2 linked regions of the Homo sapiens genome follow. The protein of the gene in region 2 interacts with the protein of the main gene of each other region in a pairwise test. Each region holds a gene or a part of one and is shown on either strand. Other genes may lie near its edges.

Region 1 (7,000 bases), on a different chromosome or scaffold from region 2:
TTATAAATTTGAGAAAAATTAACTCAGAAATTAAGTTATTTGAACTTCAGTTTTCAAAACAGGGTGGTTAAGTGTTAAGTTCTAGGTCTTCCACTTTCTTGAAGTGATCTGTAAACTCCCACAACAGTGTTGCCAGGATTGCTTAAATAAGACCTGCATCTAACACAACCACTGCACTGTCTCTGTTTTGGATGATGACAAGAAAGTAGGCCCCCACAGCCATGCTATTAAAATGTTATTTTATAATCATTTAGCCCTAAGAACTGTAACACGTTTCTAATAAAAAAAGTTTTATAAATAAGTGACACATAAATTGCAAAACAAGGTTGAAATGGAAAAAACATCATGTTTTTCCTTTTGGCAAAAAAAGTGATCCAACTTACGATTAGGGTTGGCATGGGATTGGGGTTAAAGCCAGATTAACTGAACAGGTCTTAATCTAGTAAGTGCTCTTAACAGGAAAATACTAAAAAGGCAGAGCACAGCCCTGGAGTAAACCAATGACTAGCTGATAATAAAATCCCAGTGGCTTGCTGTGGCTGCCCTGAAGAACGCACCTTGGCAGCACGGCACTCTTCCTGTAGTGCTGTCACTCTCTGCTGGTATGCACTTAGCGTACGCTGGTGCTGTTCCGCAGAGGTTTTCAGGTGCTCGTGGATTTTGTGCTTCTCTGATGTTATTTCAGCCAGCTGTATCTGGGGGTAAATCTTTAAATTTAGCTTTAGCAAATCCTATCTTCACTAGTTAAAGAGGTTTTCCTTAAAATACAAACTTTAGGTTTGAGACATAAGTACATATAAGGCATAATTAAGTAGTGAAATATTTTTATGTATTATTATTGAAAAAGCAGAGACAAGTAGAACATTTTCTAAGTTATCTTTTCTTAAACCAACATCAATTCAAAAAAAAGAAAATCCCAGACTACATATTTAACATACAATGTTTAAATACTTCAAGACATTATATATATAAAAATATACACAAATATAGCAAACATATAAAATCATTTTATAAACTGTTCCTTGTAACTGCAATAGCATTTAGTTCAGATGCAGGCTTATTTTATTTTGCACTATTCTATAGTATATTATGAATTTCCAAATACATGAAAATAATCTAGCTTGAGCCAAATAATATACTCCAGTTATATGCCAGACTTGATTTATTGTTGTAACTTCCTCAAAATGTTGAGGAATCTTTCTAGATATCGTTATAGGATAATCAATAAAATCTCTAAATGGTACCTCACTTCTACATGAAAAAACATTTTTTTAATCTTAAAAAGTAAAACCCTTACTTTATAGACTTCTACTTGCTGCTGGCTTGCCTCCAGCTCACCTTTTAAAGATGCTTGAAGTATTAAGTGATCAGTTTCCTATAGAATGAGAATCTTGGTTAAATTTTTTTTAATGTTACTCATAAATAAATTATGAATAAGTACTAAATATGAAACTGAAAAATTAACATACTGCTTGCTTTGAATCTGCCAGTTCCTTTTTGGTTTTCACAAGCAATTGCTTGATTTTGGTGTTTTTTTCTTCATATTGTTGTACTGAAGACTGTAATGAAGCTAGCACAAGAAATAATTTCAGCAGAAAAAGATGTAACAATTTTTATCAGTGAATTTAAATACACAAATATGTCTTCTTTGTATTGGCTTGTCTTTAAGCCTGTTTTAGCTTTTTATTATGGAATACTTCAAACATATGTGACAGTAGTAACAACAGTGCCATAAACTCTACTGTACCCAACTCCCGGCTGTAACAATTACAACCCATAGACAATCTTAGTTAACCCAGACCAGGAAACAGCAAGGTACTTAAGAAATGTTAAAGTGAATAAATGTGGACTACAAACATCTTTTTTTTTTCTTTTTTTTTTTTAATTATACTTTAAGTTTTAGGGTACGTGTGCACATTGTGCAGGTTAGTTACATATGTATACATGTGCCATGCTGGTGTGCTGCGCCCACTAACTCGTCATCTAGCATTAGGTATATCTCCCAATGCTATCCCTCCCCACTCCCCCCACCCCACCACAGTCCCCAGAGTGTGATATTCCCCTTCCTGTGTCCATGTGATCTCACTGTTCAGTTCCCACCTATGAGTGAGAATATGCAGTGTTTGGTTTTTTGTTCTTGAGATAGTTTACTGAGAATGATGATTTCCAATTTCATCCATGTCCCTACAAAGGACATGAACTCATCATTTTTTATGGCTGCATAGTATTCCATGGTGTATATGTGCCACATTTTCTTAATCCAGTCTATCATTGTTGGACATTTGGGTTGGTTCCAAGTCTTTGCTATTGTGAATAATGCCGCAATAAACATACGTGTGCATGTGTCTTTATAGCAGCATGACTTCAAACTATACTACAAGGCTACAGTAACCAAAACAGCATGGTACTGGTACCAAAACAGAGATATAGATCAATGGAACAGAACAGAGCCCTCAGAAATAACGCCGCATACCTACAACTATCTGATCTTTGACAAACCTGAGAAAAACAAGCAATGGGGAAAGGATTCCCTATTTAATAAATGGTGCTGGGAAAACTGGCTAGCCATATGTAGAAAGCTGAAACTGGATCCCTTCCTTACACCTTATACAAAAATCAATTCAAGATGGATTAAAGATTTAAACGTTAGACCTAAAACCATAAAAACCCTAGAAGAAGACCTAGGCATTACCATTCAGGACATAGGCATGGACTACAAACAACTTAATGGCAAACAGTTTTACACCCATTCTGGGTCCCCAGTAACATTTATCACTGTGTTAAACACCTGACTGACAGTGAAAGACTGGTGAAATAAACAAGTAATGCCCCCCACCAAATCAAGTTGTTATGATGAAATAATTAAAAAGTAAAGTGAATTTTCTTTAACTCACTTATTTCTTCTTGTAGGGTTTCTTGTTTCTGTTTTTGAATTTTTATTTCTTGCTCCAAATCTTCTATCTTGTTGTTTTTATTAGTTAACTTTTGATTTAGTTCTTTCATCAAACGTTCATAATCAGCTATTTCCATATTCATCAATGTGGTTTGTTGGGCATCCTGCACATTTTATAAGTAAAAGATTTACACAATAGTAGATCAGTTCATTTGTAAATTTTTTTTTTCATTTGTAAAATTGCTAAAATGATGCCACAGCAATAAATGGGTGCTTTTCTGTAATACTGAAATTGTTTACACTGTAACAAAGAAATGAGGAGTTGGATATTTTCTACTTTTTAATTTCACAAAATATTTTCTAATAGTTTAACCCAACTTTCTTAGTTTCATTTTATTTCATTATAACTAACTACAACTAGCAGCTGTAGCTTGCGGAGCTCTTATTTATAAAATACTAATATGTCAAGTGGCTCTTATAGTACATTTCTTTTTAGCCTCATCTTTGAAGGAGTAAAGTCAGCCAAAGTTTTAAGTATAATACAAATTTCAAGCTTTGACATTAATTAAATCTTAATGTGTCATACAACAATCATGTATACAAAATGAACTGTCAAACCAAAATCTTGTAACTCAGGAGCCTAGATTCTTCTGAAAGGACTGGTACTTAGAGAAGTAAGTTAAATTTCCAATTTTTTGAGCAAATAATTTATAAAGCATTATTTTAGTACCACAAGTAACATTCTAAAATATTCCTTTTCAACATGTATAGAATAGTTTAACAATGCAGGCTGAGTGCGGTGGCTCACACCTGTAATCCTAGCACTTTGGGAGGCTGAGATGGGCGGATCATTTGAGGTCAGGAGTTCCAGACGAGCCTAACCAAATTGGTGAAACTCCATCTCTACCCAAAATACAAAAAATTAGCCGGGTGTGGTGACGCATGCGTGGAATCTCGGCTACTTGGAAGGCTGAGGCACAAGAACTGCTTGAACTCGGGAGGCGGAGGTTGCAGTGAGCCGAGATCATGCCACTGCACTCCAGCCTGGGCCACAGAGTGAGATTGCAGAGAGAACAGAACAAACAGAACAACAAAACAGAACAATGTGAATATTACATCAATTTTGATCCTAGTGTTTTATTTTACCTTTTTAACCAGCTCTAATTCTTGCATGGTTTTCTGAAGCTGTTTCTTTTGCTTTTGAAGTTGTACCTGAAGTTCTTCAAGTTCATTTACAGTAGTGGCATGTTCCTGAAATTAAAAATAAAAACAACCCACACCACCCAACCAATATTAAAAAGGTATTTTTAAGGGGCTTTAAAATAAATCTGACGGCCGGGCGTGGTGTCTCACACCTGTAATCCCAGCACTTTGGGAGGCCGAGGCGGGTGGATCACAAGGTCAGGAGATTGAGACCATCCTGGCTAACACAGTGAAACCCCGTCTCCACTAAAAATACACACGGAAAATTAGCTGGGCATGGTGGTGAGTGCCTGTAATCCCAGCTACTCGGGAGGCTGAGGCAGGAGAATGGCATGAACCCAGGAGGTGGAGCTTGCAGTGAGCTGAGATTGCGCCACTGCACTCCAGCCTGGGCAACAGAGCGAGACTCCGTCTCAAAAAAATAAAATAAAATAAATCTGACACGCTAAAATACAAAAAGTTTGGTAATATTTCAATGTTTAAAATATATACACCCCAAATCACAGCATGGATTCTCAAATTTATGGTTGGTATTAAGGAATTAATGAACTCTGCTGTATTCATAAATGCTACTCTTAGTAAGTCTTCCCTTCATTTAAATAATATTTTGGTAAATGCATCATATATATGTGAATCAATCTCATAGGATTGTTTTTACCTTTATCTTCTGTTCTTTCTGAAGTTTTTCAGCTTCTAATTCTTTGTCTACCATTGCTTTGGCTCTCTGGACTTCTAAAATCTGTACTTCTAATAATTTGGCATTAGACTGTAATGTCTCAATACGAGCCAGGAGATCTTCATTATCAGAATTTATTGTTTCACACTGAAATGACAAATGATTCATTACTATAAACATGCAAAAAACATATACAGCAGAGGAAGAATGAACAGGTACATTAATGAGAATATTGGCATAGTGTGACAAATGAAGATTTCCAAGTCCATGCTACAGAACGATAATATTAAGAATCAGTTTTAAAATCTGTCATTGAAATACTAATATGGTAAACCTTACAAGAGACCAGGTGCACTGGCAGAGCAAAGAGCAGAAACGAAAAACAAACAAACCCCCAAACAAACAAACAACCCTCTAGGGGAACTGAGATTAGAATAATAAGCAAGATAGTTGCTAGCTGTTTTGTCTTATTCTTCTCTCCTAAGTGGGAAGGAGGGTAAAGTGGGGGGGGAATAAATTCTGTTTCCGACTATATTTTTTAAATTTTTTATGCAAAAAGTATTGAGATTAAAATATACCTGTTATAGTTTTCATTTTTGGATTTATTAAAAAATTACCTGCAAAGTCGAATTTCTTAATTGTCTTGTAAGGTCTTCAATACGATGCTCAAAATTATTAGCACGTTCTTTTTCCACATCCAGTTGCTCTGACTGCTTTTCATATTCTAATAAAAGATTCTTCAATAAAAGAAGGATTTAACTTTGGTATATAATTTTGCATTCAACAGGTCAGACTTCATCATCAAGCCACCTTAAGATTCATGAGTCCATTCTGGATGCTTAAAATATTTACCCAAGTTGAACAGAATACCTAACTGGCATTAGGTAATAAAACTAGCACATTTTGGGTAACTTTTAGTATTGGAGAGTGGGGGAAATATATGAAAGAAGAAGAAAATTTTAAATATAAACAATATAATAGCTCCAAGGTTAAATATTCTACTCATTAACAAAAATGAACTTCTGAAGTGTAAACACAATTTAAGGATAGATACAACGTTTAATAAACACAATTTAAGGACAGAGGATAAAAAGTTTAACCTGGATACCTAACTCCACCTGAAGAATTCTAATGAGAGAAATATTCCAGGCCTGACCTAATATAAAGTAAAGGTGCTAATGAAAGAACACTGGAAGACATTCACAGATTTAGTCTCTCACACTCTGCAGTGACACTTTCAATATTTCCTGAAGAATCCAAAGACAACTGAATTTTCTTTGATATTCCTAGTTGGCCTACTGAAGGACAGAATGATCAGACTTTCTTGCCACACACAAGCTAATTAGGTTATCCACCAAAATATGTAAATGAGATTCAGTTTCGAGACTGCATGTAGTTCTTTATGTTTTTCTCTCTCTCTCCTTCCTTATAAATCCTGTTTTTGCCTTTGTTTCTGGAAAACTTCTATTCTTCCCATAAATGTGCCTGCAAAATTACTAGCAAAATGGTGTTTTTAAAAAATTTTTTAACTTTTAAGTTCAGGGGTACATGTGCAGGTTTGTTATGTAGGCAAACTTGTGTCACAGGGGTTTGTTGTACAGATTATTTCACCATCCAAGTATTAAGCCTAGTACCCATTAGTTATTTTTCCTGATCCTCTCCCTCCTCCTACCCCTCCACCTTCTGTTAGGCCCCAGTGTCTGTTGTTCCTCTGTATGTGTCCATGTGTTCTCATCATTTAGCTCCCACTTATAAGTGAGAACATGTGGTATTTAGTTTTCCGTTCCTCCATTAATTTGCTAAGGATAGTGGCTTCCAGCTTCATACATGTCCCTGCAAAGGACATAATCTCATATTTTTTTTATGGCTGTGTAGTATTCCATGGTGTATATATACCAATTTTCTTTATCCAGTCTACCACTGACAGGCCTTTCGGTTGATTCCACGTCTTTGCTATCATGAATAGTGCTGCAGAGAACATACATGTACATGTGTCTTTATGACACAATGACTCACATTCCTTTGGGTATATACCCAGTAACGGGATTGCTGGGTCAAATGGTATTTCTGTTTTTAGGTCTTTGAGGAATCTGTTTTCCACAATGGCTGAACTAATTTACACTCCCACCAAAAGTGTAAGTGTTCCTTTTTCTCTGCAACCTTACCAGCACCTGTTATTTTTTTGACTTTTTAATAGTAGCCATCCTGACTGATGTGAGGTGGTATCT
Region 2 (7,776 bases):
AAAGGGTATTCAATTAGGAAAAGAGGAAGTCAAATTGTCCCTGTTTGCAGAAGACATGATTGTATATTTAGAAAACCCCATCGTCTCAGCCCAAAAATCTCCTTAAGCTGATACTTCAGCAAAGTCTCAGGATACAAAATCAATGTGCAAAAATCACAAGCATTCTTATACACCAATAACAGACAAACAGAGAGCCAATTCATGGTTGCAATTTTTAAATAGGATGACATTTGAGGTGAGATCAATTCTACATGGTTGTCTAAAGAAAAAAATTCTAAAGACTTTAAAGAAAAAAATTCCAAAGACTTACAATCTAAACATTTAGTTTTGACCAGGTGCAGTGGCTCATACCTGTAATCCTAACACTTTGGGAGGCTGAGGCAGGAGGATCACTTGAGTCTAAGAAGTCAAGCTCAGCCTGGGCAACAGAATGGGACCCCATTTCTATGAACAAATTAAAAATTTTTAAATTTGCTTTTCACGCCTGTAGTCCCAGTTACTTGTGAGGCTGAGCTGGGAGAATCGCTTGAGCCCTGGAGGTCTAGGCTGACATGAGCCATGATGACACTACTGTACTCCAGCCTAGGTGACAAAGTGAGACCCTGTCTCAAATAAATAAATACATAAATAAATGAAAACCAAACATTTAGTTTTAATTCTAGCATGATGCTATAATTCTACTTCCTCAAAGACTTCATTTTAATAAGTAGGAAACTATAATACTAGGTCAATATTAATAGGAATGACTACATTTTGAAAAGCAACATTGCCCTAAAGATATGTATCTTTCCTACAGAGTAATGGCTGTCATTAGTTAGAATCATAAAATATACAGGAAATGGCAGTTTTGTTATTTTATTTTTCAACACCTTATCATGACCTTTATGCATTTGCGTTCCTATAAAAGTAGGAACCTTGCTGTGGTCATAAACTGAGAGAAGCAGTGGTGGAGGTGGGATGTAATCACCAATAAAGATTAGCTAAGTTTCTCTTGGCTATTTATGACTTTGTTAATTATAAATTTGTCTCAACACTTTTATTCTTTTTTAAAATTTTTTAAAATATGGAACACTTCAATTTGCATGTCATTGTTGTGCAGAGGCCATGCTAATCTTCCTTGTATTCTTCAATTTTAGTGTATGTGCTGCTGAAACAAGCTCTCAATACTTTTTTAAAAAACCTTGAGTATTATGTGTTGATAACTATTCTATTTCATGTGCGTTGGCTCATTAAATCTCTTTATTCAATGTCTCAACACTTTATTTATCCATTTATTAGCAAAAAGGTCTTGCTCTGTTGCCCTAGCTAGATCGTAGTGGCTTGATCATAGCTCACAGCAGCCTCAAACTTCTGGGCTCAAGCAATCCTTCTGCCTCAGCCTCCGAAGTAGCCGGGACCACAGGTGTGTGTCACCAGGCCTGGCTAATTACAAAAATAATTTTCTTTTTTAGATACGGGGTCTCATTATATTGCCCAGCTGGTCTTGAACTGCTGACCTCAATCTATCCTTCCGCCTCAATCCAAAGTGCTAGGATTACAGGCATGAGCCATTGCTCTGGCCTTTGTTTTGTTTTCAATGCCTGTAGGGAATTAGGTCAGTTCTTTACTAACAAAGCAAAGCATTATATGATCAAATTTTGAAAAATGAGAATTTTTGATCAAAATGCCTAATGGGTCTTTTTTAGTCTTTATTACACTGTTATTTCCACAGTGACTTGTAACTAGGTGCTTAATATAGATTCTGAAAGGCTGTCAATACATTTAAATTTGTATATAGTATTTCAGTTTACAAAGCATCGCGATATATATCTCATTTATCTGGTTCAGAATATGTAGTTTGAATACACAATTATATTACAGCACATTTTTCCTTTCAGTTCTATTTTATTTATTTTTTTGAGATGGAGTCTTGCTCTGTCGCCCAGGCTGGAGTGCAGTGGTGCGATCTCAGCTCACTGCAACCTTCGCCTCCCGGGTTCAAGAGATTCTCCTGCCTCAGCCTCCCGAGCAGCTGGCATTACAGGCACCTGCCACCACACCCGGCTAATTTTTGCATTTTTAGTAGAGACAGGGTTTCACCATGTTGGCCGAGCTGGTCTTGAACTCCTGACCTCAGGTGATCCACCCACCTCGGCCTCCCAGAGGGCTGGGATTACAGGCATGAGTCACCGTGCCCCGCCTCAGTTCTCTTTTAAAGGGAATCTGTATTTTCAAGAATTACACACATCATACTCAAATATAAATCTGACATTGACCTAAGTTTGAAGTAGTAATGGCCAAGATCTTTCAAGCAGCAGCAAACTAATCTTGTTTAAGAGGAGGTATTATAGAATCATAAGCACAGAGGTCCAATAATTAGACCACACAGTGCTTACAAAGGATAGCCTTAGAAAGGTTCAGGTGTTTAGGTAGAGCCCTTCTCCCCTTCTCAAACCATTAACAAAAATAAAAATAAACAAAACAAAACTTTTCCTTGCAGGAAAATTTCCGTGAACCTGTGGTTTTGGGGGCAAGGATGAGAGCAAGAGGCAAAAACTAGTTCAGAACCTAGACAACTAGTGGAGTCTGCAAACAAATCAAAACCAAGATAGGCATGGTTGGTGAGCATGTAAATTGGTATAGCCACTATGGAAGGCAGTATGGAGGCTCCTCAAAAAATTAAAAATAGAACTACAGTATAAACCATATAGTATATACCATATATATCATATATGCATATGTACCATATATACAATATATACGTATATACCATATATTCTGGGTATATATCCAAAGAAAATGAAATCAGTATGTCAAAGAGATATCTGCATCACCATGCTCATTGCAGCATTATTCATAATAGCCAAAGTATGGAATCACCTAAGAGTGAACTGATGGATAAAGAAAACGTGAAATGTAAAAATGTGGTATATGTATGTATATTTATATATATAATGAATACTATGCAGCCTTTAAAAAGAAGAAAATCCTGTCATTTGTGACAACATGGGTGAATTTATGCTAAGGGAAATAAGCTAGGCACAGAAACACAAATACTTCATGATCCCACTTATATGTAGAGTCAAAAAAAGTGGAACTCATAGAATGAGAGCAGAATAATGGCGGGATCTTGGCTCACTGCAACCTCTGCCTCCCAGGCTCAAGTGATCCTCCCATCTCAGCCTCTCAAGTAGCTGGGACTACAAGTGCCACTGTGCCTGGCTAATTTTTTTATTTTTTTGTAGAGATGGGGTCTCACTATGTTGCCTAGGCTGGACTCCAACTCCTGGGCTCAAGGGATCTGCCCGCCTCGGCCTCCCAAAGAGCTGGGATTACAGGCCTGAGCCACGACACCTGGCCGACCTTAAATATTCTTAGCACAAAATAAACATATACACACAAGCACACACGACTATGTGAGGTGATGGGTATGTTATCATTTCACAACATATACAACTATGAAAACATCACATGGTACACTGTAAATATATACAATTTTTATTTAAAGCTAGAAAAATTCTTTTAAAATAAACTAAAAAGGCAGTCCATAAGCTTCTGTTGAATGGATGAAAATCTCTACCATAAATAAAAACATAATATGCAAAGGTATTAATAAGATTTGGAAGAAAACCTAAGAGAGTATTAACAGTAGTGACTACTGGGGATCACCGAGATACAGGGTATTAGGGATGGAAGGTTTACTTTTCTCTTTTTTTTTTTGAGACGGAGTGTCGCTCTGTCGCCCAGGCTGGAGTGCAGTGGCACGATCTCGACTCACTGCAACTTCTGCCTCCTGAGTTCAAGTGATTCTCCTGCCTCAGCCTCCTGAGTAGCTGGGACTACAGGCGCCCGCCACCACGCCTGGTGAATTTTCTGTATTTTTAGTAGAGACGGGGTTTCACCGTGTTAGCCACGATGGTCTCGATCTCCTGACCTCGTGATCCGCCCGCCTCGGCCTCCCAAAGTGCTGGGATTACAGGCGTGAGCCACCGCGCCCGGCCGGAAGGTTCACTTTTCAATGGATCTTTGGGAAGTTTCAAAACATACATGCTCAACCTTTAAAAATTTCTCTAGGGGAAATCCCTTCTCCACATCCTATAGGTGTGCTTCCTTCTTCCTCTCCACACACTTCACTATCAAAACCTACATTACTTCCAACAGTCGACCCTCGAGGGAATAAGTCCCTGGTCCCCACGATCGGGACCAGCCAGTCCACACTGCCGACCCCTGAAAGGCGGTCTCAGCTGCTCGGTCAGCGAGAAAAAAAGCCGGCGAGGTCCTCGTCCTGCAGGCCACAGCGAAGACAAAAACCTCTGGTTACTGGCCTCAGGTGCAAGGCTGCTCCGCATTGGCAGCGCGGTACCATTCCTATTATTATTACGTAGTCTTGTTTCTTTCTGGGAGAAAGCACCTAGGGAGAGTTGGGCTGGCCCCGCAGGGCGCTCCGGGACACGCGTCCTCTGCAACGCCGCAGCCTGCGCCAGCGTTCGACCGGGACGACTCATCGAGGCCCGACTCGCATTTTCAGTTGTCAGATTCGCCACTTTTTGGTGTCAGAATTTAAAACAAAAATTCCAATTTCTCTATTTCAGAAGCTCTTTCTGTCCAGAAAAACACAAGCAGGAGAGACTTCAGGTTTTTGAATTATTCGTCTCTTCTGGCCTCCACGGTATCTACATCCAGTGAGCGGGGACCGTGAGTCGAAAGCGACGACGCGGATGCTCAGGCCACCGTTCCCGGCGCGCAGTCGCAGCTGACCCTCGCTCCCGCCCCCGCCTGGAGTCCGACGTGGAAGTTGCTGGCTGACTGGGCTTGCGAGGAAACCGCCTCGGAGCTGCAGCCGAAGGCCAAGGAATCACTGAAGATCGGCGAGGGAGGACAGGGGGTTCATCATGGGTGAGGGGTTCGAGAAGGGCACCTGGGCGCGCTCGAGGGAGCCGCGGCCGAGGGCTGGGGTGCAGAGGAGGAGAGGGGCCGGCCAGGATACCCTAGAGTAGCCAGCTCCTCAGGGGGCGGGTCGCGGAGGACTTGACTCACTTTGGATCTTCATCTGTAGGGGTGGATCCGGCCTCTCGCGTTCTCCTCCGTCCTCTCTCGGTTCCCCTTGATTCCTGCGGGGTCCAGGGACCCGGACAGCTTGGGGACGTCCGCAGAGCCTGGGTTCGAGTTCTTTACCCTTATCATGAAGTTTTCCCTCATCCCCAGCTCCACTTGCTGGGCAGAGTTGTTCTTGCGGAGGCTGGCAACGCGTCAGTCGCAGGTTCGCCGAGGTTTCTTGGTGAAAGATGAGCTGCGGCCCCAGAGTGGAAGCTTAATCATTCTCTTTACCAGGGGCGCTGGGACGGCGTCAGTTTGAAAAACCTGAGAGCAGGTGTTGCTTATGTTGTTTTATGGCCAGTTTGGCATTTGTCTGCTAATCTGCTGTAGCGTTTCATGTAATAATACGGGTATTTCTAGTCGGCAAATGAAACTTTATTCTTGGTTCTTGGCCCGCTGATTGAGGGAACTGCATTCTCACAAGCATCAGGTAACACCCTCGCCCCGCTAGAACCCAAGTGAGGGTGCACATTCTTTAACTCGTTTCTCACCCTCCAAATGAAGGTGCAGATTCTTTGGCTTGGTTAAATCCCTCCACAGTTTTCTGGGGAGCATACTTCTTGCTCCCAAGCATCACAGGCGCTGTCCTGTCTTCCATAACCGCCTTCAGTTTTGTTCCGCCTCTCTTCTACCTGTAAATGGTAGAAAGGACTTTGTCAAGTCACACCTATTCTGTTGAACTTTCCCAAGGTTCTCTAGCCCATGGTGTTGTTCATTTTTCAACTCGCAGCTCTTAGTTATGCCATGTCTTTGCCAAATAACAGTGTGGCATCACTTCTGATGTTAACTATTTTTTTTTGTATTAATGTAACTTGTTTTTAATCTTCTCTAATGGCTCTGGATGGGAAAAGGACTGTGCTTTTTATCCTACACAATACTTGGTGTACAGGAAGCTTTCTGGGAATATTTTGTGATGCATTGGATAGAGCTTTATTATTTTTAAAAGTGGGTTTTTTGTCAAAAATAGTTATTGTTTTCAGCTTTTTTCTCAATTTCTTGTACTAGCTATATTGCTTCGTGGAGAACTCTGATTGAAGTTGGTTATAGTGGTACTGCTGCTGTACAGTACTTTTCCTGTGCGAGGATTACATTGTCCCACTATCCTCCTTACTGGCCCCTTGGTTTTTAGGGGTAGTGAGGGGATCATGCTAAAATATTCCTATTCTGCTGATTAGAAAATGAGATTCCCAAAGGCCGCGGCCATATTTCTCTTATTATTTGGTTTATCTTCTGTGCCTGCATGACACAATAGTAACATAACTAAGGACATAGTAACATAACTAATTACTTGTTTGATATTGAATAATATATTTCATTGGGAGGAAAAATATGCACCTACGCATCCAGGAAATTATAATATTTAATTTGGTATTTAGCTCTCAAAGGACAAGGTTAGATGTTTTGTATACCTAGTTCACAAAATGACATTGTGTATGTTTTTTCTTTTATTATTTTTTAGGTGGCTTTTTCTCAAGTATATTTTCCAGTCTGTTTGGAACTCGGGAAATGAGAATTTTAATTTTGGGATTAGATGGAGCAGGAAAAACCACAATTTTGTACAGATTACAAGTGGGAGAAGTTGTTACTACTATACCTAGTAAGTGTTGGTATGATGAGCTAATTGTAGGGACTTTCTGGTCTCCATCCAACATAACTATTTCTTTCTTTCTTTTTTGTTTGTTTTAGTAGAGATCAGGTATCATCACTATGTTGTCCAAGCTGGTCTTAGACTCTTGGCCTCAAGTGATCCTCCTGCCTTGGCCTCCCAAAGTGCTGGGATTACAGGCATGAGCCACTATGCCAGGCCTATTTCTGAATAAATTAATTCATATAATAAAGTATTTGATAAAGTTTGTAAACTGCTAGTATGAACATAACATTGATAACACTTTTTCCATCAACTAAGAGGCAGCTTAGTGTAATTTAAGGACCCTTGTTCTGGTTTACGGCCGGGTTGGGCTGTTTATAGGTTTAAGTTACTAAATCTTACTGAGAGCCAGTATCTTTACTAATAAAATACATAAGATAACAAATACCCACTGGTTTTCAGGGGGAAATAAACAAAGTAGGTAAAAGTACCTTTTAAATCTGTGTAAAGAATTATATAAATGTTAAGTGATGTTACATGTGAAGTGCCTTTTTTTCCTGTATTTGTTACTATTTTAATTAAGATTAGTTTATCTTAGGTAATTATATTGATTACTTTTAAAGATCTGAGTTGCAGAGACTGAGTGTTGAAGTAATTTGGTACCTTAAAAATATCAAGAGAAGGCCGGGCACAGGAGCTCACGCCTGTAATGGCAGCACTTTGGGAGGCCAAGGCGGGTGGATCACCTGAGGTCGGGAGTTGGAGACCAGCCCAACCAACATGGAGAAACCCCATCTCTACTAAAAATACAAAATTAGCCAGGCGTGGTGGTGCATGCCTGTAATCCCAACTACTCGGAAGGCTGAGGCAGGAGAATCGCTTGAACCTGGGAGGCAGAGGTTGTGGCAGGCCAAGATTGCACCATTGCACTCCAGCCTGGGCAACAAGAGCAAAACTAGGTCTCAAAATATATATGTGTATATGTATATATTTATTAAGAGAAGAAATACCTCAATTTTAATCAATTATTACTGTCTTACAAAAATATTCTCCAACAGTCTTACTGACTATATGAGAATACTGTTGTTATTTATACTTTTTTCATTTGTTGC

Evidence for each region. Proteins that work in one complex are often made in the same cells at the same time.
Region 1: the proteins of ARL1 (region 2) and GCC2 interact in a two-hybrid assay, tested with the Homo sapiens proteins (one study listed by BioGRID).

Annotation. Positions count from the first base shown.
Region 1 is NC_000002.12:108,480,206-108,487,205, reverse strand, and holds part of GCC2 (GRIP and coiled-coil domain-containing protein 2), read right to left. Parts: intron 5,510-7,000; coding exon 5,390-5,509; intron 4,920-5,389; coding exon 4,755-4,919; intron 4,145-4,754; coding exon 4,040-4,144; intron 3,058-4,039; coding exon 2,895-3,057; intron 1,571-2,894; coding exon 1,470-1,570; intron 1,376-1,469; coding exon 1,298-1,375; intron 696-1,297; coding exon 558-695; intron 1-557. UniProt on the Homo sapiens protein: Golgin which probably tethers transport vesicles to the trans-Golgi network (TGN) and regulates vesicular transport between the endosomes and the Golgi.
Region 2 is NC_000012.12:101,404,741-101,412,516, reverse strand, and holds the start of ARL1 (ADP-ribosylation factor-like protein 1), read left to right. Parts: upstream 1-4,744; 5' UTR 4,745-4,871; coding exon 4,872-4,875; intron 4,876-6,535; coding exon 6,536-6,673; intron 6,674-7,776. UniProt on the Homo sapiens protein: GTP-binding protein that recruits several effectors, such as golgins, arfaptins and Arf-GEFs to the trans-Golgi network, and modulates their functions at the Golgi complex.